2 separate regions of the Homo sapiens genome follow, and region 1 is linked to region 2. The links come from fine-mapping of genetic effects on gene expression. A gene starts in region 2. The other region holds a variant in brackets. All regions are shown on one strand. Distances are between the middles of the regions.

Region 1 (12,130 bases), 120 kb after region 2:
AAAAAAGTCAAGAGTAAAGAGATAAGAGGAAAGGCCACAGGTCTGGGGCCAGTGAGTCATGAGAGGCACAGATAAGGCTGCTCCGAGGGGAGGAAGAGGCCAGCGTCTGAGTGGGAAAGGGGAGGACGTGTGCAATGGTGAGGAGGCGGAGGTCAGTGGAGCAAGCTGCTGTCTGAGGAGGCTGACGGTGAAAACTGAATAGAGAACTCGAATCCAGGAGCAGGTACATGGACGGGTCTCTATAACCCACAGGGTCGGAGAAAGACATGAATATGTGTGTGCACAGAGGGAAGGCACCAGGGAGATGGAGGGAATGAGGAAGTGTGAGAAAAATGGAAGAATCCAAGTCATCAGGCCCCAAGAAACGGGAGGGAAGCAGTCACAGCAGGAACTGGATTGTGACTCTACTGAAGGAGCCAGGCCCATAGGCCCTGAGCACACGCACACACACTCCACACACATGCACTCACACATACACATGCACTCACACACAGATACACATGCACACACATGCACACACACAGATACACATGAACACACATGCACTCACACACACGCACTCACACACATACACATGCACACACATGCACTCACACATACACACATACACACACATGCACACACTCCACACACAGGCACTCACACACACACATGCACACATACATGCACACATATACACTCCACACACATGCACACACACTCCACAAATGGCTTCACACACAGTCACACACACAAACACATGCACTCACACACATGCACACACATGTGGTCACACATGCTCACACATGTACTTACGCACATGCATGCTCTCACACACATGCACACACATATGCACTCCACACACATGCACCCCACACACACACACGTGCTCTCACACATACACATACACACACACTCCACACATGCACTCACATACATATGGTCTCACACACACACGCACACATACACACCCTACACATGCACTCATACGGTCTCACACACAAATACACATATGCACACATACCCCACACACACACTCCACACACATGCACTTACACACACGCACTCACACACATACACATGCACTCACAACATGCACTGACACATATGCACACACATGCACTGACACATACACATGCACACACATGCACTCACACACATGCACTCATACACATGCACACACAGATACTCCACACATGTACTCACACACACACATACACACATATATGTGCTCACACACATGCACACATGCACTCACACATGCACGCACTCCACACATGCACTCACATGCATGCTCACACATGCATGCCCTCACACACATACACACATGCACACACACTCCACACATGCACTCACATGCATGCTCACACATGCATGCCCTCACACACATACACACATGCACACACACTCCACACACATGAACACACACCACACATGGCTTCACACACGTAGTTACACAAACACATGCACTCACACACATGCACACATGCACACACATGCAGTCACACATGCTCTCACATACATGCACTCACGCACATGCATGCTCTCACACACGCACACACACACTCCACATACATGCACCCACATACATGCACGTTCTCACACATACGCTCCACACATGCACACACACGGTCTCACACACACATGCACACATACCCCACACACACACATGCACACACACACATATGCACACACACTCCACACACATGCACTCACACACATGGTCCCACACACATATACACACATGCACACATACCCACACACATGCACACACACACTGCACACATATGCCCTTACACATGCACTCACACACAACATGCACTCACACACATACACATGCACACACACCCATACACATGCACTCACAACATGCACTCACACATACACATGCACACACATGCACTCACACACATACACATGCACACACATGCACTCACATACATGCACTCACACATACACATGCACACACATGCACTCACACACATACACACATGCACTCACACACATACACATGCACACACATGCACACACATGCACTCACACACGTACACATGCACACACATGCACTCACACATGTACACATACACTCCACACACATGCACACACAACTCCACACAGATGCACTCATACACATACATGCACACACATACTCCACACATGCACTCAGACACACTCAGACACATACTCTTGCACTCATGCACACACACACTCAGACACACACACACATGCATGCACTCACACATATACACATACTCAGACACACACACTCTTGTACTCACATACATGCATATACTCACATATACATGCACACATACACACTCATACACATACACTCACACATACCTGCAGGCACTCATACATGTGTGCACACACAAAGACACTCAGACACACTCACTCTCACACACACGTGCTCTGACATCACTCTGGACTGACCACGGGGATGTTGCTGGCCATCTAGAGCACTGTCTTACTTACAAGCCATAACCCGATTTATGCCAACACAAAGATCCTCTTCCCCACTTGTTTGTGGGATATGAAGACCCCTTTTCAAGTCCAAAAGTTTGTGGACTGTCCCCCATACACATGATACTGGTTGTATTTTTAGTATCCATCAATTAAGAAAATATTTAATTACAAAGAGCTGCCATGAACTCAATCATGCTTTAAAATAGTGTTTTATTCATAGCCGGGCACGGTGTCTCACACCTATAATCCCAGCACTTTGGGAGGCCAAGGAGGGCAGATCACCTGAGGTCAGGAGTTTCAAGACCAGCCTGGCCAACATGCTGAAACCCGTCTCTACTAAAAATACAAAAATTAGCAGGGCATGGTGGTGGGTGCCTGTAATCCCAGCTACTCAGGAGAATCGCTTGAACCCGGGAGGCGGAGGTTGCAGTGAGTTGAGATCACACCACTGCACTCCAGCCTGGGCGACAGAGTGAGACTCCATCTCAAAATTATATATATGAGATAAAATAATTAGTGTTTTATTCATTACTCCGGCAACCTCATCCACTAAGGCACTGGGAGAAGACAGAGGCTGGAGACATTGTTCGTGATGCCATTGACCCAGCCTGCCGGAGCCAAGAGGCAGAGAAGCCCCGGCAACCATGCTGGGACCTCCCTAGGTCTGTGGCTCATGGGTGGAGCCCCCAGCCCTTTCCCTGCCTGGTGTCCCAAGAACTCTGCCACAGCATGGAGGGTCAGCCACAAGGAGCCCCAGTGGATCTCAGGGGGACAGAGGGAGAGAAGTCAGCAAGGAAGGTTTGACTTGGAGCTCTTACCGCGTGCGTGGGGCCCTCAGGCCTGTGAGGACTCCCTGGCCTGGAGGTAACGGGCTGGGAAGGGAGCCAGGCACACGGGAGGGGGTCGCTGCAACCGTCCTGGCCTTTGGGATGGGTGGGATCACGATGGCGCCCAGGGACTTCTGCATCTTCTCATCATTGCAGTGCAGGTATTGCCAGGAGATCTGCGCCTGGGAGCAGAGGCGGGACAGGGGTCTGGCCTATGGCAACATCCCATGGTGAATGCTCACCTCCAGGCACCTCACACAGTGTGGGACCTGCTGTCTCTTTTCAGCCACACCACCCTGGGACCCCCAGAAGCCTGACTGCTTCCTTACCACTCCTGGTGAGGAGACTGGCAAGCCCTTTTGTGACTATTATTATTCGTTTTTCTGTTCTCATTTCAGAAAAATCCTAGAACATCAGAGCTGGAAGGACCTTCAAACACATCTGGGCCAAACCTCTATTTTCATAGATGTGCAAACTGGGGCCCAAAGAGGGGTGTGACTTGCACAAGGTCACACAGCCAGTGAGGGGCAAACAGAAACCAAGGCCCAAATCTGAGTCCTAGCCCAGCATTCTTTGCCACACTCTTGCTTAAAATGGAGAGGGCCAGAAAGCAGGAGGAATTCTGGAACATTTAGACCAGAGAAGGCCTAGGGGACCACCAGTTCTAGGACAAAGGTCATGCAGCCTCTGGCACAGCCACCCAGAGCCCCCAGGCCAGCTATGGAGGTTTGAGATGCTGGGGGAGGTGGTGAAATGAGCACCTTGAGCCTCTCCCAGTGCTGTCCCTATCCTCACTGCAGACCTCAAGACACCTCCAGGGATGCTCAGGGCATGGAGTCAGGGGTTGGTGGAGGCTAGAAAGAAAGGCAGGAGGAAGGGAGGGCAAGAAGCTGAGGACCAGACTCACAGCAGTCGAACCACCTTACCTCCTGAGCACCGGGTCTCAACTCGTGAGGACCCGGAATGCTCCCCGGTAGGTCCAGGCCCTTCTCTTTGACTCCGCTGGCCTCAGGGGTGGTAGGGATGCTCTGGATGAGAGGCATCGGCCTGGGCACCCTCAGCAGCCTCTGAGAGGTGGCTCGGGGGATGGTGCTGTGCAGGGGAACTCCTTGGGGGCCTCCCCCTGGATCCAGAGAGGCTGTACAGGGATGGGGATGGGAAATCAGTTAGTCCCAGAAGAACAGGGAGTGGAAGGTGGATTCAGACCCCAGCAACGGGGCCTTCTGCCCTGGGAAGGACTGGGATGGCGAGGAGAGAGATCAGATCTGTCCCCAACCCCACCACTGGTAGACTGAGCAAGCAGCCACTTCTGAGTGTCTGTGCCATTCCAGAAAGGGCCAATCCAAGTTACCTGTTTAGAATTCAGAGGCAGCGTGGGAAGGAAGGGAAATAAAAGCAGTGCCAGATCAGGAGGAAGCATGGCAGGTCCTGGCCGTGGGTAGAAGCTATGTGACCTCGAGCAAG[G/C]CACTGTCTCTCTGAACCCCATTACACTTCTGTGAAATGGGGTGATTCAATAACATCACTTATATAAGATGCCAGGCAAGTACCTGCCACTGTTTCCCCTTCCTTTTCGGCTGGTGATGTGGGGCGTAGCTGTTTTGACACAGCTAACATAGTCTAAGACAGACCGCCACACTTCCAGCTCCCCTCTGAATGCTTTAGGTGCCCAACAGACATCTTCAGCGCCCTGTGCCCCACCCCATCTCACCCCACAGCCATGCCTCAGGCAAAGGCACAGGGCAAGAAGCACTGGGTTGGGCCAAGAGCTCAGGGTTATCTTTGTAAATATCAGTGATGAGGAATAAAAAAAAAAAAAAGACTAGCATTTTAACTTTCATTCTGGCCTCAACAAAACCACTGCATCAAAACAGCCAAGTCAGGCCAGGCGCAGTGGCTCACGCCTGTAATCCCACACACTTTGGGAGGCCGAGAACGGGAGGATCACTGGAGGTCAGAAGTTCAAGACCAGCCTGGCCAACATGGTGAAACCCCATCTCTACTAAAAATTAGCCGGGCGTGGTGGCACATGCCTGTAGTCCCAGCTACCGGGGAGGCTGAGGCAGGAGAATCGCTTGAACCTGGGAGGTGGAGGTTGCGGTGAGCCGAGATCGCACCACTGCACTCTAGACTGGGCAACAGAGCAAGACTCGGTCTCAAAAAAAAAAAAAAGATTAGCTGGGCCTAGTGGTGGTTGTCTGTAATCCCAGCAACTCAGGAGACTGAGGCAGGAGAATCACTTGAACCCAGAGGTTGCAGTGAGCCAAAATCGCACCACTGCACTCCAGCCTGGGTGACAGAGCGAGACTCTGTTCCAGAAAAAAAAAATTAAAAAAAAATAAACCAGCCAAGTCAAAATATCATCTCTGTTCCTGCACACTCGCTCCCCTCCTGGCTTCCGGTGCTGGTTCTGTTCTGTCTTGGAGCACTGTTGTGTTGTGGTTAGCCTGTGGGGAGCTGAAAGGATGGAAAAGAAGGGGTGTGGTCAAGTGGAGACTGTGCCACTTGCCGGGCCACCTTGAGCCCCAGCTGGGTCAGGGCACAGAGGAGTCAACTCAGCCTCAATGCAGGGGCCAGAGCAGCCCCAGCACTGCCCGGGGGCCAGAGATCCCCGGCCCTCCATGCTTGCTGAGGGGCCTGATAAGTCTATAGGTCACTGCCCATCAGAACATTAGGTAGAACAACTCCATTCTTTTTTTCCCTATGCTGGAACTTTGTAAAAAAGAAATGAAATATCTAGAAAAGGGCTTCAAGCCCCTAAGGGAGAGAGTTGTTGGTCTGGCAGCTCTAGGAGTTGTACCTACTGGAAGTTCTAAGGAAGCTTCTCGGGCATTCCAACCCCACCTTCTGCCTCCATAATGTGCAGCCAGGACAATTCCTCCCAGAGGCTCCCTGGCATTGTCCTGGGCTCCCCGGGAGCTGGAGACACCCCACGGCTCCAGGGAGAGGCTCAGCAGGTGGAGCAGTCTGCACAGGGGAGGGGAAGAACAGCCAACCACAACCCCAGGCTTGACGGCAGCAACCACGTGCCTCTTGAGAGCACTTCCCCTTTCTTCCTAAGACCTCAAGACTTCTTATTGCTCTTGTTACCCAAGAGTTCATTCCGCTGAAAAGAGCCCGTATGATTCACCCAGAAGAGGAGAGAAGGAAGGAAAATAGTAACAATGTATTAAGTTCTTCCCATATGCCAGGTGTTGAGAATTCTGTGTACAAGTTTTCATTAAACCCCCACAGTAACACAGAAGTATTATTAATAGTGTCCCCATTCCACAGAGGAGGAAATCGAGGCCTGAAATGTTACCGACCTGCCCAAGGCCCCAGAGCCAGTGAGTATCGGGGCTAAGATTTGAACTTGGCTTGTCCACCACACAGATGAGAGACAGTATAAAGTGCCTGCTGTTGAATCCCTTGTTCATCTGCTCAACAAACGTTTCTTGAGAGCCTCCTAGCTGCCAAGCGACTGTGCCTCACACCGAGATCTCAGTCACTGCCCTCTTGGAGCTGACAATTACATGCAAGATTCAGGTTTTAAATAGTCACAAAAGTAAAAATATAAATGCAAACCATGAAAAGAACTGAAGGAAAAAAATGATAGGGCATTATTGGAGAGCATCCTAAGGGGCAAACTCACATTGGGGAGTCAAGGAGGCCTCTTTGAGGAGGGCTTTGAAGCCAAGAAGGGAGGCTGGGTGGGGATTTTCTGAGTGGGAAACGGAGGAGGGGTGGGGGAGGAGCAGTGGCTCTAAACCTCAGGCAGGAAAGAGCCCACAAGCCCCAGGCCCTGGACAGCAGAGACCGAAGGCAGAGAGTGACACAGTTGGGGTGAGGCCAGGGCCAGAAGGTCTTGTGCATAAGGGAACATTTGGGATCTTAGTCTAAGCACATCCAAAACCTACTGGCTGATTTTGAGCATAGTTGGTGGAAATGGGAAGAACATTTGCTTAAAAGGATCCTTCTGGAGCAAGACTAGAAGGCGCAAGGGTGGGAATGAAGAGGCCAGTCGGGAAGCACTGCAGAGCCCGGGAGGGAGGCTCAGCTCCAAGGAGGTCGCTGAAGCCATAGAGAAGGTACCTGGTATGTACCCACCGATCACCCCCAGGGCATCCCAGCATGCCACCTGGAAGCCTGCTGACCCTCACAGCCCTGGAGGCCTGCGGCCCTTGACCTGGAAGTGGGTGGGTGAGGGGTGGGCAGGGGCCAGTGCTCACCTCGGGAAGACGCTGCCAAGCCCTCTGAGAGCCTCCTTTTCTTGAGCTTGTCCTTAATCTGGATGGTGTCCCTGGCCACGCTGTTGGCCTCTGACTCCGGAGAAGGGAGGAGCACCAGGGGCTGGTCCCCCAAAGACAAGGCCCTGAGGTTCCTGGGGTGACCATTCCTTGCCTGCCAGCCCTTGGAAGGGGTGTCCAGCTTGAGGCCACCCAGCTGTCCGAGTCCACGCAGGAGCTGTGACGGTTCCTCGTTGTTCAGCAGGGCTCTTGGCTCAGGCTGGAGAGAACCTGAGGGGGACAGAGGTGTGAATGGCTTGGCACGCAGTACCCAGGGTGGCACCAGGCACCAGCAAGCTCCTTGACATTGCTTCCTTCTAACAGGCAGCCACTTGCCTGGTGAAACCCAGTCATTTAATGTTTCAGTCACTCCTGGGGACGAGTCATTCATTCGACAGTGTCTCTGAAGCACCTAATCTTCACAAGACCCATGCCACAAGGTGCTCAGGACAAAAGGGGGAATCCACAGGCAGTCCTATGGCAGCACAGACAAGAGGCCGTGAATCATAGGGAAGGTCGTCTGCCCAGGGACCACCATCCACCAATCTCCAGGGTCCAACAAAGTCATCAGATCCCCGAGCACTGACCTATGCCAAGCACAGACTACAAGGAGGAACTCAGGCATCTCAGAGCAAATCACCCCCACCCCCAGCAGACACACCAGATGGGAGAGAAACAAAATACTCTGCACATTTAGAGGAGGTAAGAGGTTCTAGAAGACCTTCAGGAAGTGGTGCTCTTCACCTGGGCCCTGGGGGAGCATTCAGACAGGTGGGCTCTCAGAAGCTTGGCCACAACCCAGCCCCTCCAGAGACCCAGGCTGCAGATGCTGGACAAGTGGCAGAGACGCTGAGTGGACATCTTGAGAGGGGCCCCCTCCCCATTGCCAACCTGGGTGCTGAGTGCACTCCCAGGTCCAGGCGCATGCAGAGAGCCCTGCTCCCTATTCCTGCGGGTCCCCCTCTGCACACCTCCAACCTCTGAGGCACAGGATCAAAAGAACCTGCCTTTGAAAGAATCAAAGGGTATTTTCAGCAGGAGCCACAGGAAAAATAACACCTGCTGGTAGCTCGAGAACACAGCCGGCATCTACCACACTCACTCCCCGCTCCAGGATGAGGCCAGGGGCCCTGACCAGGTGAGGTCTTCCCATCTCACCTTCTCCATGAGGCAGACTGGAGTTGATGCTTCCAGGCGGGAGCACCCGGGGCCCAGCACTGGTCCGAGGGATGCTCCCGCAGTACACGGCCACGGGGACCAGGACCTTGGCTGGAGACAGAAGCACAGGAGAGCAGCACCTGAGAGTCCTCCAAGGCCAAGACTGGGAGCAAACCAAGAACACCCGGCCGTAACCCTGAGCACTCCACCCCGCAGGGTCCCTGCCCAAAAAACCAAGGCATGTGGTGGCCCCACCCCCAACACCAGAGCCTGGCAGGGCCAGGCAGGGTGCCTGTGATCTCCACCAAATCCCTCCAACCCCGCTTGCCCCAGCCTCTCAGCCTGGCTGCCTCCTCCCTCCTCGCATCCTGGCTTTGTTCCAAACCCCCCTCCATGCCTTTTCATCTCCTTCATGGGCACCCCTCTTCCATCACCCAACATCATTGACCGATGGAGTGCCCATCCCCAACCTCTGTCCACCAGCTGCTCTCCCCAGGACACTTCCTCACTGCCACACCCTGCAGATAATCCCCTACCCTACGGCTTCCGCCCTGACCAATCCCACCCGTTACAGAGCATCCAATTACCTTGCCAATTCCTTTTTGGAAGTCCCCAGGCACCTCATCAGCATGTCCTACACTGATCTTCCCTCTTCTCTCCTAACGTCCCTCGGCTCAGCAAAAGACACCCTCTATCCGCGACACAGAGATTTGTGAACACTCTCTGTGCAGTGAGACAGTAGTGGGCAAGGCTGACTCAGTCCTCAGTGAGACTTGAAGTCTGGCGGAGAACACAATGATTAAGAAGCAATGACAGTGCGGGGCCTGGGAGCCCGGCCAGAGATGGGGACAGAAAAAGCTTCCCAGAGGGAGGGACCACTGAGCTGAGAGCATACAGGGAGCAGGAGTCAGGAAAGAGGAGGGGAAGTTCAGCTAAGGCATGCGCTCCTTTAAGAAGCCTTCCATCTTTTGCCAGTTTTTAAAGCAGATTCTCTGTTTTTGTTACTGAGTTGTTTGAGTTCCTTATATATTCTGGTTATTAATCCTTTGTCGGATGGATAGTTTGCAAATATTTTCTCCTATTCTTCACTCTATTGACTGTTTCCTTGTGTCTACAGAAGCTTTTTAACTTGATGGAATCCCATTTGTCTATTTTTGCTTTTGTTGCCTGTGCTTTTGAGGTCACTGCTGGATGAATATCCAACAGAAAGTAAATCAGTACATTGAAGAGCTATCTGCACTCTCATGTTTATTACATTATTCACAATAGCCAAGACATGGAATCAGCCTAAGTGTCCATCAATGGATGAATGGATAAAGAAAATGTGGCACATATACACAATGGGATACTATTAGGCCATAAAAAAGAATAAAAAAAGAATCAAATCCTGCCACTTGCAGCAACATGGATGGAACTGGAGGTCATTATCTTTTTTTTTTTTTTTTTTTTTTTTTGAGATGGAGTCTCAGTGGTGCGATCTCGGCTCACTGCAACCTCCGCCTCCTGGGTTCAAGTGATTCTCCTGCCTCAGCTCCCCCTAGTAGCTGGGATTACAGGCACCTGCCACCATGCCCAGCTAATTTTTTTGTATTTTCATAGAGACAGGGTTTCACCATGTTGCCCAGGCTGGTCTCGAAATCCTGAGCTCATGCAATCTGCCCGCCTCTGCCTCCCAAAGTGCTAGGATTACAGATGTGAGCCACCACTCCCAGCCTGGCAGTCATTATCTTAAGTGAAGTAAGCCAGGCACAGAGAGACAAATTCTACTTGTTTTCATTCATATATGGGAGCTTAAAAAGTCAGTCTCACAGAGGCAGAGAACAGAATGGTGGTTACCAGAGACTGGGAAGAGAAGGGGGTGGAATGAAGAGAGGTTGGTTAATGGGTACAAAAATACAGTTAGATAGAAGGAATGAGAGCTATTGTTTGATAGTATAGTAGGGTGACTATAGCTCATAATAATGTATTGTATAATTCAAAATAGCTAGAATTGGAATGTTCCCAACATCAAGAAATGGCCAGTGGTTGAGGTGCTGGAAATCCCAATTACCCTAATTTGATCATTACTCATTGAATGCCTGTATCCAAATATCACATGTACACCCAGAAAATATGTACAACTATTATGTGTCAATATTTTTAAAAGAGAAAGAGAAGCCCTCCCTCTCCTGTGTTCCCACAGCCCCAGGCACAGCCCTGTGTTACTCTCTCTTCCCCATGCCTCTCTCTGTTCCTGCCCTGCAGCTTCCCTAGGAACAGTCACTGTGTCTTACTCATCTCTGTAGTACTGTACCTGCTGCTAAGTAGGCACTTCACAAACGTGGGTCCCACACCCTCCTGGCTCAGCCCTTCCCGAGCCCACCTCAGGACCATCCATGGGGACCTAAGCCACCACCTGGAGAAGCCACCACGCAGGTGGAAACCCAGCTCGTCCATCCCCAGGCTGCAAGACTCCTAGTCTGGAACTCAGGAGCCTGGGTTCCCACTTTTTCCACCTGTGTGACCTTGAGGAAATAAGCTAACTTCTCTGAGTCTCAGTTCCCACATCAGTAAAGCAAAGGAGTTGACAGCACTAAAGGTTCATACAACATCTTTATCCTATTTCTAGATTTGTAGATTTTTCTTTCTAAGATCTCAGCACCTCCCACTTCTCCACTGGAATCTACATTCAGGTGGGATCTGCTTTAGCACTAAAGTAAGCAGGTCTTTTCCGATTCATATGTCGAAGCCCCGGGGAGTTCTGCCGTGTGCATCATGCGCTGTCTCCTGAACCGCTGCTCTGGCCATCCTGCTTCTCTGCCTTCCTTCCAAATGGCCATCTGGCCCCTGCTCCAGCCCATGCAGGATGAAGCAGCTCTGCACCTTGCTAGCACCCATTTCATCTGGGGCAGAACCAATCCCCTCACTTTCCAGGGGAAACTGAGGCTCACCCAGCCAGCTCCCAAAAGCAGAGCCAGGCCTCAAGGCCCATCTCCTGATGCTAACTGGCCACACACTGCTCCCACTACCCCACTTGGTTGGCTAAGGAAACAGAGTCGTTCACCCTCCCTGAGGGCCCGGCCCATATCCCCTGCCCATCCACATAACCTTGACCACAGAACAGAATTAGCCCCTCAAGGAACCAACCACCCTGCTGCAGAGAGTGGAGATAAAGCTCAGGCCAAGGCCCTGGAACACCAAGCACCTCCTTAGGCCAGGGAGCCACCCAGACAGCCAGCTGAGCGGCAGCATGTGGGGAGCTGGCCAGGGCTGGAAAGGCACGGCCACCTGGCTGTTATCTCCCAGCAGCCCTTTATCCCCACATCTCCCTTTTTCTGGCCCTTGGGAGTGTCCGAGGCAGGTCCCCTAGCCTGGAAAACACCAGCAGCAGGCCTCCCATGGTGCCCCTTACCTTCGGGGACATCGTCACGGGTGCCCATGTCCTGGGTGGAGAAGGTG
Region 2 (12,130 bases):
GAAATGGTGAACCAACATTTTACTTGAAAAACTCTAAACTGGAAATTTAACAATTCTATCAAATTTATCTCCTGGTTCCCTTTTATTATGGTTCTGGAGAAATAAGCCTAAATAGATGAGAAGTGGAATGCTTCTAAATTAACATTTTACAGAGGAGATGTAAATGGACCAATTTAAACATTAACCAATCTCATTTCACATTCCAGGGAAGGGTCTCTTACCCTCTTTGCCTAAGTACATGGCTTTTTTAGCAAGTCAGTATATTTAACCAAAATAAATACATCAATAGCAGAAGAATGCTAGATATCTAAGCACCATTGCTTTCTAAAAATAAAGTCCTCTAAATCCATCATGATGCTTAAAATGAACATTTTAACATAATATAAATGCTGACAGCAGAAATAAAGCATTTAGCTTAAGAAGCAGAAAAAGCAATAAGCAATTGTATTTTTGAAAAAGGAAAACTTTAGCAATTTTATGAAAACCATAAAAATGGTTCTAAGAAAGACTATGAGTGCAAAAAAGGCGTAACAGAGAAGTCAAGTTACCAGTTCACAGAAAATAAGCACAGCTACTTCACATACCACAGTCTGAAGGCATTGGTGCTGCAGAAATGGAAAAGATAACTGGGGTATCAGAAGCAGAAAATATAAATGGGTATCTTCCAAACAAAGGATTTCCTTCTAATGGAAAATCTGGAAGGTCCTCTATGGTCATCTTCTAGAAAGCCACCTATAATAAGAAAGAAAAAAAAAGTGTTTCTACTTTATTTGTATGCAACTTAGAATGACTGCCTTCAATAACTGCCTAAAAGTTATTTGACGTCAAATCTGCTGACATTTTCAGTAAGGATCTTTTATGAAAGGGAAAAAATTCCTTTTGGCAAAACTGTTGTTAAAAGGCATACATTGCTTCACACCACCTCTTATACCAGTCGGTAGCACATGTAATCTCTCTAGACAAAGCTCAAAAGGAATATAAAATAGGTGAAAACACTTTAAATGCTGAGCTAATCTAAATGGGTGAAATCCTCCTACTCATGTAACAAACAAGGGCGTATTAACCCTTGTAGATGGATCTTTAACTTCCCATAACACTGGCACAAGTTACATCATTTGTCATCCAATAGCTCATGCCATGTGCTCATCACATGAAGATAATCTACCTTAAAATGTTTCCATTATTTTCTATCCCAGAAAACTTTACTGAAAATTAATCATATCCCTCTTACAAATCTAAGAGTTTACTAAGATTGTTCAACTTAACAAGGTCCGAGGTATGTGAGTTCTATCCTGGCCAAAGATGGAAGCCATGCCTTTTAAAGCACATGGCTTATATTACCTCTTTTTCCCAGAAAACATGAGTGCTTAGAATAAATTTGCTCTAAATTAGACTTTGTACTACACCCTAGCCTACATCTCAGAAATGATGTAGAAAGCAGAGAAACTGCTAGTAAAACCAAACTTATGAAGCTAAAAGCCTTCCAGTTTCTTTTGTATCCGATCTTTACTATCTGAAGTATCATGAATTCCTGTTTTTAAAATGTAAGCAAAACATTATAAAACTAAATGAAAAATGAGTTTAGATTATTTCAGTAGAAAGCACAGAATAAAAATAGGTAATCAATGGCTTGATCTGGTAGTAGACAACACCATACTAGCTACTACTTAATGTGTGCTCTGTTCTACTTAACCAACCCTATATCTAACTCAATTATCCTTACCATCAGTTCCCCACTACAATAAAACAGTCATTTCATTGAGCTCACTGTTGTCTTCCTAACTTGATTCATGTTTTCTTAATACTGGCAGGAACTGGTAAAAAGTAGGAGGCTTTCTTTTTCCTCAAAAATCGTATGCTTATATGGATATAGATGTTATATATTAGGTAACCTAATCCAGTTGTTACTATTTTAAGGTATTCACATTTTCTTGGATGCTAAAATTACTTACCACCAAATACTTAGAAGCATTTTGACATTAACCTTGCCACATAAATAGGAAAATGACAAGTTCATGGAATTAGTGTTATAGAGCAGCGGTGATCTTCCTCAAATACTATCAATTCCAAACAGTAATGAGTATTTATTAAGGAACCACTATATACAAGACACTATTCTAGATGTTTCAGCAAATACAAAAATGAGTTAACAGATGGTCCATGCTTCTTAGGTAGTTTACAATCTATTAAGGTGAATAAAATACCACTAATAACTATAGATTATGAGGCAGAATGGGATCTGCTCCATCACATAAGTACCAGGAACATTTGCAGTTGGAGCTTCTAAGAATCATAAATGGTGAAGAAGGTATCATCTGTGATGAGTCTTGAATGATGAATAGGTATCAATATAAAAGGGGATCCCATTAAAAGAACAGTAGGCTGGAACTTGGGATATGACTAGGAAAACAGTCAGAGGTGAGGCTGTAAGGGCTTTTTAGGGCTGTACTGAGGAGCAAATACCTCATCAAAGACCAAACCACTTACTTTCATGAGCACTGGGAAACTACTGATTTTTTTAAAGAGAGTAACATGATTAAAGCTGTTTTAGGAAAATTAATCTGACTATAATCACGGTTTGGGACTCAGACATGTTTTTATACTCTTAATTCTTCAGCAAAAAGATTCAGTGGATATCTGTCTGAGTCGGTTAAGAGGAGTCACCACATGACTTCCCTTTCAAAGGGTGGAGTCTCCCATTCAAAAAAAAAAATTTTAAGTGATCCCCAGAGCACCTTTCATTTCCTTGTAAACTGTTGAGATCCTCAAAGATACGAACTCTATCGTACACAACTAGCAGTCACCACAGGAGCTAGAATAGTGTGTTACACATATTTAACTAATATTCAAAGCTTAGATTCAAAGTGGAAAGAGGATTCATGCAATCAGATGTAACCAGCTTCATTCTTTTACATATTAGATACTTCAAGTCCAGAAGAAGCTACAATATTACCTGACCAATGCAGTGAACATTCTTTGTATTTTGTCTTTGTTGCGTTTTTCTCTAGTTACATTTCCTTATTTTCGTGAAAAACTTAACATTCTACCTTTTGTCCTCCCAAAGGAAACTATGTACCCCTATAAACTTCCTTATAGTCTCAGATTCATTTCCTAAAAGCAATTCCTGGATCTGAAGACCTACAACACCTGGACTCTTGGTCAAATGTCTAAGTATACTGATCTGAACTGAGTACACACTTTCATTCCAAATCCAACTATGGTTAACTGGTGATAACTGATTATAAAGTAAGCCTCAGGTTAAAAATATATATATATATATTGGCCCTGCCAGGCATGGTGGCTCACACCTGTAATCCCAGCACTTTCGGAGGCCATGGCAGGTGGATCACCCAAGGTCAGGCATTCGAGACCAGCCTGACCAACATGGCAAAACCCCATCTCTACTAAAAATACAAAAAATTCGCTGGGCATGGTGGAGGGCACCTGTAATCCCAGCTACTCAGGAGGCTGAGGCAGAAGAATCGCTTGAACCTGGGAGGCAGAGATTGCGGTAAGCCGAGATCCCGCCACTGCAGTCCAGCCTGGGCAAGAAGAGCGAAACTCCATCTCAAAAAAAAAAAAAAAAAATTGGCACTAATCAACTGTCTACAGAACAGGTGCCTCTGATACTAACAATAGCTAGAATCAAATTCCCCAAACTCTGATTTCTATAGGAATTTCACCCTACTCATCACTCCAAGTTAGCTGTTAGCAAAAGCATCTTACATAACGTGGCTCAAATACCTTGTGATTTTTTTTCCAAGACTCCTTGGTCCATGCTTTAACACAGAGCAGTAATAAATGGGGATGTCCACTAGCATCTTCAGGCTGGTTCAGGACTGTCTGGACCCCATAAAAGGGCCTTACTGAAGCCAGGAGACTTCAGATTTGAGATATGGTTCAAGAGTGTCCTTGAGTTATTCAACTAATAGGAGACCAAAGCTGTGTCTACATTAGCTGGAATCATGAGGCCCTTTCATTCAATTTCCTGTAATACTTTGTTATGAGTCATCATTCTCCTGAGATTCCAATCTCACCACGTAAGTATTTAAAGCATAACTCCAATGATCCTTTTATTTGCTACCTACATAACATCTGTACAATCTACTAAACAGGTATTTACAGTACTGAACACTTAGTTGGCCTTAGAGAGAATTAAAAATTGAAATACCTGCCCTGAAAAAGCTATTTATGCATTTAACAAATATTTATTCAGTTTTTCTTACTAAGTTCTAAGCTATGCAAAGGTAAAGAAACCAGATCTGTCCTTGCCCTCATATAAATTACAGCCTAGTGTTGATTCCTACCAGAAAGTTGAAAGTAGTAAGTGCTATGACCAAGGACAGCTGAGTCCTATGAAAGCACAGATTCAAGAGGGTCAACGAAGGCTTCCTGGAGACTAATAAGTTAAAGCTGTGGCATCTGACCAGCTAACTACTAGCCACATGTGACTATTTAAATTAATTTAAAAATTGGCCAGGTGCAGTGGCTCATGCCTGTAATCCCAACACTTCGGGAGGCCGAGATGGGCAGATCACTTCAGGTCAGGAGTTCGAGACCACCCTGGCCAATATGGTGAAACCCCACAGCAAAAATTAACAGGGTGTGGTAGCAGGCGCCTGTAATCCCAGCTGCTCGAGAGGCTCAGGCAGAACAATCGCTTGAACCTGGGAGGCAGAGATTGCAGTGAGGAGAGATCAGGCCACTGCACTGCAGCCTGGGTGACAGAGCAGAGCGAGACTCCGTCTCAAAAAAAAAAAACAAAAACAAAAAAAAGAGAGAGAGAAAAGGAAAAGAAAAAAAATATTAAAATTTCAGTGCTTCCACTGCTCTAGCCCCATTCAAGTGGTCAAAAGCTATATGTGGCTAGTGCTACCATATTGGGTAATGCAAAAAGAACATGTTTCTGGTCTCCGAAAGCTCTTCTAAACAGCACTGAAGGAAAACAGTGCAGCTCACTCTCCAGATGAGAAAACAATATACAAATGCCTGAAACAAGACACAAATAAAGGTTAACACACTAAAGCAAGCCTATAGCTCCATAGTTCATTATAAATAATTAACAAGGGAGCAGTAAGCCTAAAAGTAACCAGAGTTTGAGGTTTGAACAGGGAGAAAGAGTGAAGTTGATTTTATATAATCTAAAGATCACTAGTTTCAAACACGTGTCAAAATTGGAGTTGTCATAAGCTATGAGAGACAACATAGGTCACTTTTTTAAAAGCCCTTGCTGGTGGGACTGTATGTGGTAAACACAAAATGTCTGAAATGAATCCTACAAATAGAATACCATGGGCTAAATCTTCTACAAAACAGAAGTAAACACATTCCATGCATGGCTAGACTCAATCTTACAGTCCAGATAGACCGTATCAAATGAAAGCATTTAAAAAATGCATCATATTTACGAAAGCAAAATAAGCTGGAACCAGGATGGTTCTCCAACATAAAAACGCAGACCAACTAGACTCCAGCAGGTTCAAGTCTCTGCTTTCCTCCCCAGTTGCTCAATGCCCCGCACCACGTGATCCTGTGCTGTTTAGACGACTCACTTTAAATTGTGCACAAGATTCACAAACAACAAACGTCAAAGTGAAAGTGAAGTACAATTTAAGTGCTGGCGGATGTTCCTGAGGAAGGTGTTTACTGAAACCTTTCAAAGGCGCCCGTTTTATACGATGATGGTGCTACAATATGAACGCAGTCTAGTATCTCAGAACATACAGCAAGTTATTGTCCCATAGGAACATCATCCTCTGATACGTATCAAAACACTGTCTCAGCACAGAGCTGAAAACCAGAGTCTGGATGACGTGAACAGCCTGACATCTAATTCAAAGCTCTACCATCATAAGCAGTGAATGGGATCCTTAAGGATGCGGGCTCAGCTCCAGCGCTCCTTTCAACTTCCCCTCCCAGGTGCGGATGGTTCAGAATTAAGGGATCTCAGGTAGCCAAGGACTGCAAGGACAGCCATTTGGTTTAGCTTTGAAGACCCACTGGCCAAAGGTTTCTCGACAATTTAATGCGCAAGGGGAGTCAAGTGAGAAATGGGAAGAGGCCGCGTTGGAAAGCCACTGCGCGTGCGGGGACTCTCGGGGCAGCCGCGGCTGGCGGTCGTGGCCCAGAGCCCAGCTCCGCCGCCGGGTCCCGCACACCCCGCGCCCCTCAACCTAAAGTTGGGCCGTCCGTCAGCGGCCGCCACGAGGAGTCCCCATCCCCGCCGGGTGGGCCGCTCCGCCCCGAGAAGGCCTCCCCGCGGCCAGCGACACCGGTGCCCACGGGAGGCGGCCGCGGGGCTTCCACAGCCCCCAGCGCCTCTGCGCGACCCTCCCGGGGCCACTGACCTCCCCGCGGGCCCCCAGGGCCGCCCACCCCGGCCCCAACCCCGCCGCCGGCCAGCCCGCGGCCCGGGGGGGCCCCGCGCGCCCCCGGCCCACCTGCCTCCTCCGGGTCCTCTCGGAGCGGCCGGCTGGGGACGCGGGGGCGCGGAGGAAAGGCCGAGAGGCGCGCTCCCGCCGGCGCTGTCTCCCGTGGCCGCCCACGGAGCCTCCCGCCGCGCCGCTCCACACCTCTCCGGGCCCCTCCCGCTGCCTCCCACGCGGGGTGGGCGCGCGCGCAGTGCAGGCGGCCGGGCGGCGCGCAGGCCTCGGCCACGGCCCCGCGCACGCGCTGGGGACTCGGTGGGGACGGAGGAGGCAGCGCGCGCCTGCGCTGGCTCGCCTGGCTCCCGCGCCCCCGCACTCCCCAGCAGTCAGATGATCGGGCGCACGCGGGGCCGCGACCCCGGCTGACAGCGTCTGCGGGGTGTCGCAGTGTTACCTCCCCCGCCGCGAAGCCAGGCGGCCCCGGCACGCCGTGCGTGCCCACCGCCTTCACAGCCCTCAGCCTCGCGGCCTCACGTCTCTAACCTGCGGCGCCCCCACCAGCTGCTGGGGCCGGGGACCTAGTCTTACCCGTCTTGGGCTCCCCAGAGTCCAGCCGAGCGTGGTCAAGAGTACATCCACCAGTTCCCTGCTGGCAGCGCTTGCTGTAAAAGGCCTAATCCGTGCTACACCCACGTTGAGCAATTAGTTCATATCTCCTGCGGCTTTGCTGCCTCTTCACCCACGTTTTCTCCTGACCCCTTCTCCGTCTCCCAAGGACCAGACAGGGTGAAACTGTGCACCTAAAGTCGTGAACTCTGACAGCCTGACTCTCTGTCATCTGGTAACAAGAAAGCGTTACTGGACACATAGTGAGTCCCCTTAATGAGGAGACCTAGTAAGACCATGACCGAAGTTTGAAACATGGAGACAACAGTGTTACATCTATCAGCTGTCTCTGAGGCCTACAGCGGCTGCTTCATAGAGGCTGTACTTCTGTGTTCAGCGCGCACAGTGCCTGGCAGGAACAGATGTTGAATGAACGTCTGTCAGTGTCTCTGCAAGAGCAGAGGTAAGCGCTCACCGCACCCCGGAGCATCTTTTCCTGTTAGAATCATTGATTTCAGGGACTGGAAAAAGCCCCCTTCCCACTTGCCTGAATCCTCCTTACAGTGTCTTCCCACCAAGCAGTGGTTGAACACCTCCACTAACAAGGAACTCATTACCTTTTAAGGCAGCCATTTAATCTTTGATCAGCCTTTTGGAAATTTTCTACCTTAGGAGCTAAAATCCAGCTCCCTGCATCTCTCCCTCACTGGATTTTGTTTCTGCCCTGGGGACTCTTAAGTCTGACTCCAATTCATCCAAGACACACATTACCTGTCCCTTAGGCTACTCCTGATATGACCTGGTCACAATCCCACTCACCAGCATGTTGAGGGATTCTCTTGGATGCATTCCAGCTTGTCCAGAGCTCTCTTAAATGTGATTATCAGGAATGAGTGGGTGGCCTGCCAAGTGCGGAGAGGAAAGAGACTGCCACCTCTTCTTAGGTCCTATGCTTAACAACATTCACCATATCAAAATAGTTGCTAGGAGCAGTCACATCACATTGTTGAATCGGGTGGAGCACACTTGACTAAAACCCACAATATTTGAATACATGACCATCCCTGACCCTGGTCAGCTGCCAGTTTCTCTGTCTCTGCAGGCTCAGCATCTGCGAGTGCTCTCAGAGATAATGTGACACGGATACTTCCTCCTCCCTCTGAAGAGTCCACCTCCCTTTCCCTGCTTTCATCATACCCTCTTCTTGTCTGACCCACCCATCTCTTTAGCTGGTTAAAAGAAGGAAGGCAATCTGCCCTTGGTTGGCTTCAAGCACCTATAAATGAGGCCAATTGTCATTGAACCACAGAAAGTCATAAAGATCTGTGTGTAACAGAGTAGCTATTGGTGAAGTTTCCAAACGTATACAGTTCACTTTTATTGCTGATTTAAATTATCCATCTGAAATACCACTATTAGTAGGTGACAAGGCATGGCTAGCTCAGTTGTTCTTAGTTATAATAAAGATCTCTGTTAGAACCAGCCAGGCCACTGGCTTTATCTGCTACACCCAAACACTGTATGATACATAGGCAAATTCCCAGGATACCAAGCCACCAGAGTCTCCCACTCACTTAGTTGCCTTTGTTCAAAAATCTGACGTTACTTCTTTATACCATCATCAAGAATGCAAGTGCTCGTTGGAGTCATGCTTCCTAGAATACCTCGTGACATACAAGCTTTAGAACCAGGTATTGCCCAGTTAACCAGAGTGAGACTGGACAATGATATGTGGCCAGAACTTGGAACTTGAACTATTCATTGGGGTGGGAAGGCACATGGGGATGTGGACCAACTGTAGCTGCTGAGATTCAATTCTATCTGGAGACACAAAGTTCCTGAAAAGTATAGCAATAATCCACAGCGTCAGGAGGTGATCAACTTACTGGTCAACATCACAGTGTGGAGAAAGGGCATTACTCACTGACCACTGTAAGGCACTTGACCTATGGAAATCTTGTCTTCACTTTACAAATGAAGAAGCAGACTCTGGGAGGCTGCGTGACTTGCTCCATGTAGCCAGGGGCAGAAATAAGATTCAAACCTAAGTCTGTCTGATCTGAAGGCCTATGTTGATTCACTACTTTGCTAACCTACACAGGCTGTCTTTGGGGGCATTAAAGACCCAGAATGGCTGCATAGAGCAGCATTCAGGAATTCAGACACTCGGCAGCAGGAAGATCTGTCAGCAGCTCTCAGGACCCCGACCATGATAAAAGGGTTAGAGGAAATAGCAAAAGAAGACAAGGTCACTGCTTTTACATGGACTGGATATGGGATGGAATATCATCAGTTTCTAATTTGTGAGTGTATAGGGGGCCTAGGCCCTTAGGACCATGAGAGACACCCAACTGTCAGAATTGGGGCACCAGATTGGAGTTCAACTAGCAGAAGTGCTTAAATGCAAAAGATCAGAGCACTGGGCAGAGCCCCTAATATCTTCCTGTCTGTGATGTTTACAGGTGTGATCATCAGCATAAAAAGCCCAACAGAATCAACAAAGTATTAGAAGTAATGTTAGCTCAGCAAGGTTGCCAAGTACAAGATCAGTTTCTAAAAATCAATAGTTTTGTCTACATCAGCAGTAAGCAACTGGGAAATGTAACAGACAATAAGAAACCATTCACAATAACAATAAAGTTTAACAAACTCTAAAGCATAATATCCAGGAATTAACCCAACAACTTGCAAAAACTTTAAGGAGAAAATTTTAAAACTCTATTTAAGGACATAAAATATTGAATAAGTGGAGAGATACAGCATGGATAGGATGACTTTACATTGTAAAAGTATCCATTTAGTCTCCAAAGTAAATGTTATGGCAACCAAAATTCCAGCAGAAACTAAATTTTTAGGGAACTCAACAAACTTACAAAATATATAAGGAGAAATAAATTTTAAACAGTTAAGTCAATTATAAAAACCAGAGCAGACCTGCCATGCCAGATATTATGTCATTGCCACATAGTAATAAAAATATTATGGTACTGGTATAGGAACACATAGAGCAAATAGGAAACAGAATGAAGAACTCAGGAGCAGACCCACGTATAAATGCTACCTCCATTTACACAAAGGTGGTACCACAGATCAATGAGAAAAATATAAATTATTTAGAAGACGGCATTCGGGAAACTGGCTTTAATTTATCAAGGAAAAATAAAGTTGAGAGCCCCATGTTCTGCCATATACAAAGGTGAACTCCAGATAAATGGCAGACCTACATATGATACAAAAGAAAATGCAGGAGACTATCTCTATAATGTGGGTTAGGAATTTACTTCATAAAACAGGTTTGCAAAAGCACAATCCTTGAAGCAAAAAAAAATTGTATGACTTGACTGCATCACAATTAAGGGTTCTGTTCAGTTAAGAATACCATAGAAAAAATTAACAGATGGCTGACAAATTGGAAGAAAACATGTGCTATGTTCAAAAGCAACTAGGGATTAATATCTGAAATGCATGAGGAACTTTTCACAAATCAAAAGGAAGTCAATATAAAATATTTTAAAGGCCAATATAAAAATGAGAAAAGTATAAGAATAGACAATTCACAGAAGGAAAAGCCAGAATGGCAAGCAAGCATTAAAGAGATGCTCAACCCCACTTGTAATCAGAGTGGGAATATAAAGAGTGTGACCCCATAGCCACCAATATGCTGGTCTATGTTTTAAAACCCGCTCCCCAGGGAAGGAAAAGTCCTAACGTACAGTGTTTGCCAATTTCCATGGTGCAAATACTCTGAGCACTGCCAGTTTCCAGCTACCAGTGTAGCTTGAGGTCACTGAACAAGAAGTTGGGAAGAAATGTGCTTTATCAGCTCTCATGAACTGTTTTCAACACACCACTGCTTCACCCACCAGCATGGCAGAAATCAGAAAGATAATCCCAAATATTGGCAAAGATCTGGGGAAAGATGCACTGCTGATGGAAATTTAAACTGGTAAATATATTCTGCAGATCAACCTGGCAGTGCTTAGTGAAAAAAATTAGCAGTATGCTTTATGACTCAGCAGTCACCCTCCTGGATATGCCTCAGAGAAACCCTTACAGTGGTTCTATAAGCACCTTGTTCATGCAGTTTCCAGGAAGTCAGTTTCTCATTCACTAGGTGACCTTATTCAGTCTATGGCTTTAAATATTGACCAGGCGTGGTGGCTCACACCTGTAATCCCAGCACTTTCAGTGGCCGAGGAAGGATCACTTGAGGCCAGGGGTTCAAGACCAACCTGGCCAACATGGTAAAACCTGGTCTCTGCTAAAAATACAAAAATTAGCCAGGCATGGTGGCGTGCACCTGTGATCTCAGCTTCTTGGGAGGCTGAGGCAGGAGAATTGCTGGAACCTGGGAGGTGGAGGTTGCAGTGAGCTGAGAGCATGCCACTGCACTCCAGCCTAGGGGACAGAGTGAGACTCCATCTCAAATAATAATAATAAATAAACAAATATCATCTCTGTTTTCCTGATTTCCAAATTTCTATCTCCAGCCCTGAACCTCAGATGTATATCCAACTGCCTACTCAACATCCATTCTACAGCATACATTACATATCACAAATAGAACATGTTCAAAATGGAACCCTTCCCCATAACCTTCCCTATGTCAGTAAATGGCAACTCTATTCTTCTTTTTGCTCACTGGAGTCATCCTTTCTTCCTATCATATTTTTGGATTCTCCAAACCAAACTCCCTGTCTTCATTCTTCAAAAAGTTTATGATATCATTTATTAAGTAAATTCACATACCATAGAAATCCTTACAAATCAGTAGCCACTGGAGACCCCAGGAACCTCCTACTGCTTCTACCTGGGCTTGCCCTCCTCTAATCCATCTCCTTTGTCAAGGTTGCAGGTGGGGACTGCCTGCTGAAGTAGACCACAAACTGAAGAGGACTCCATTGAGCCGCACGAGACTTATTATCTGAATGGGGCTTCTCATTCCTGGTTGTGCATTAGAATCACCTGGATATCTTTTGCAAAATAAACCCTTAAAGACCTCCTCAGATATTTCCATTCAGTTGATCTAGTTTAGTTTCATGCTATTCTATGTTTATTCTTTTTTTATTTTTTTGAGACAGAATCTTGTTCTGTCACCCAGGCTGGAATGCAGTGGCGCAATCTCAGCTCACTGCAACCTCCACCTCCTCGGTTCA

What was found.
Region 1: its variant is fine-mapped to the expression of CLIP4 in whole blood (INTERVAL, PIP above 0.99).

The regions. Positions count from the first base shown.
Region 1 is chr2:28,994,816-29,006,945 of GRCh38, reverse strand. It overlaps TOGARAM2 (TOG array regulator of axonemal microtubules 2), which reads right to left. Exons shown (of 20, transcript NM_199280.4): 2 at 12,084-12,130; 3 at 8,693-8,803; 4 at 7,478-7,765; 5 at 4,199-4,410; 6 at 3,264-3,454. The coding sequence starts at 12,111. Among named protein-coding and RNA genes, the nearest start is that of TOGARAM2, 20 kb to the right of the region's middle. The variant G/C (reference allele first, on the strand shown) is at 4,737.
Region 2 is chr2:29,109,976-29,122,105 of GRCh38, reverse strand. It overlaps CLIP4 (CAP-Gly domain containing linker protein family member 4), which reads right to left and starts at 6,691. Exons shown (of 16, transcript NM_024692.6): 1 at 6,441-6,691; 2 at 585-732. The coding sequence starts at 717. It overlaps LOC105374386 (a long non-coding RNA gene), which reads left to right and starts at 7,362. Exons shown (of 3, transcript XR_007086265.1): 1 at 7,362-7,437. RefSeq lists silencers at 6,041-6,280, 6,471-6,830.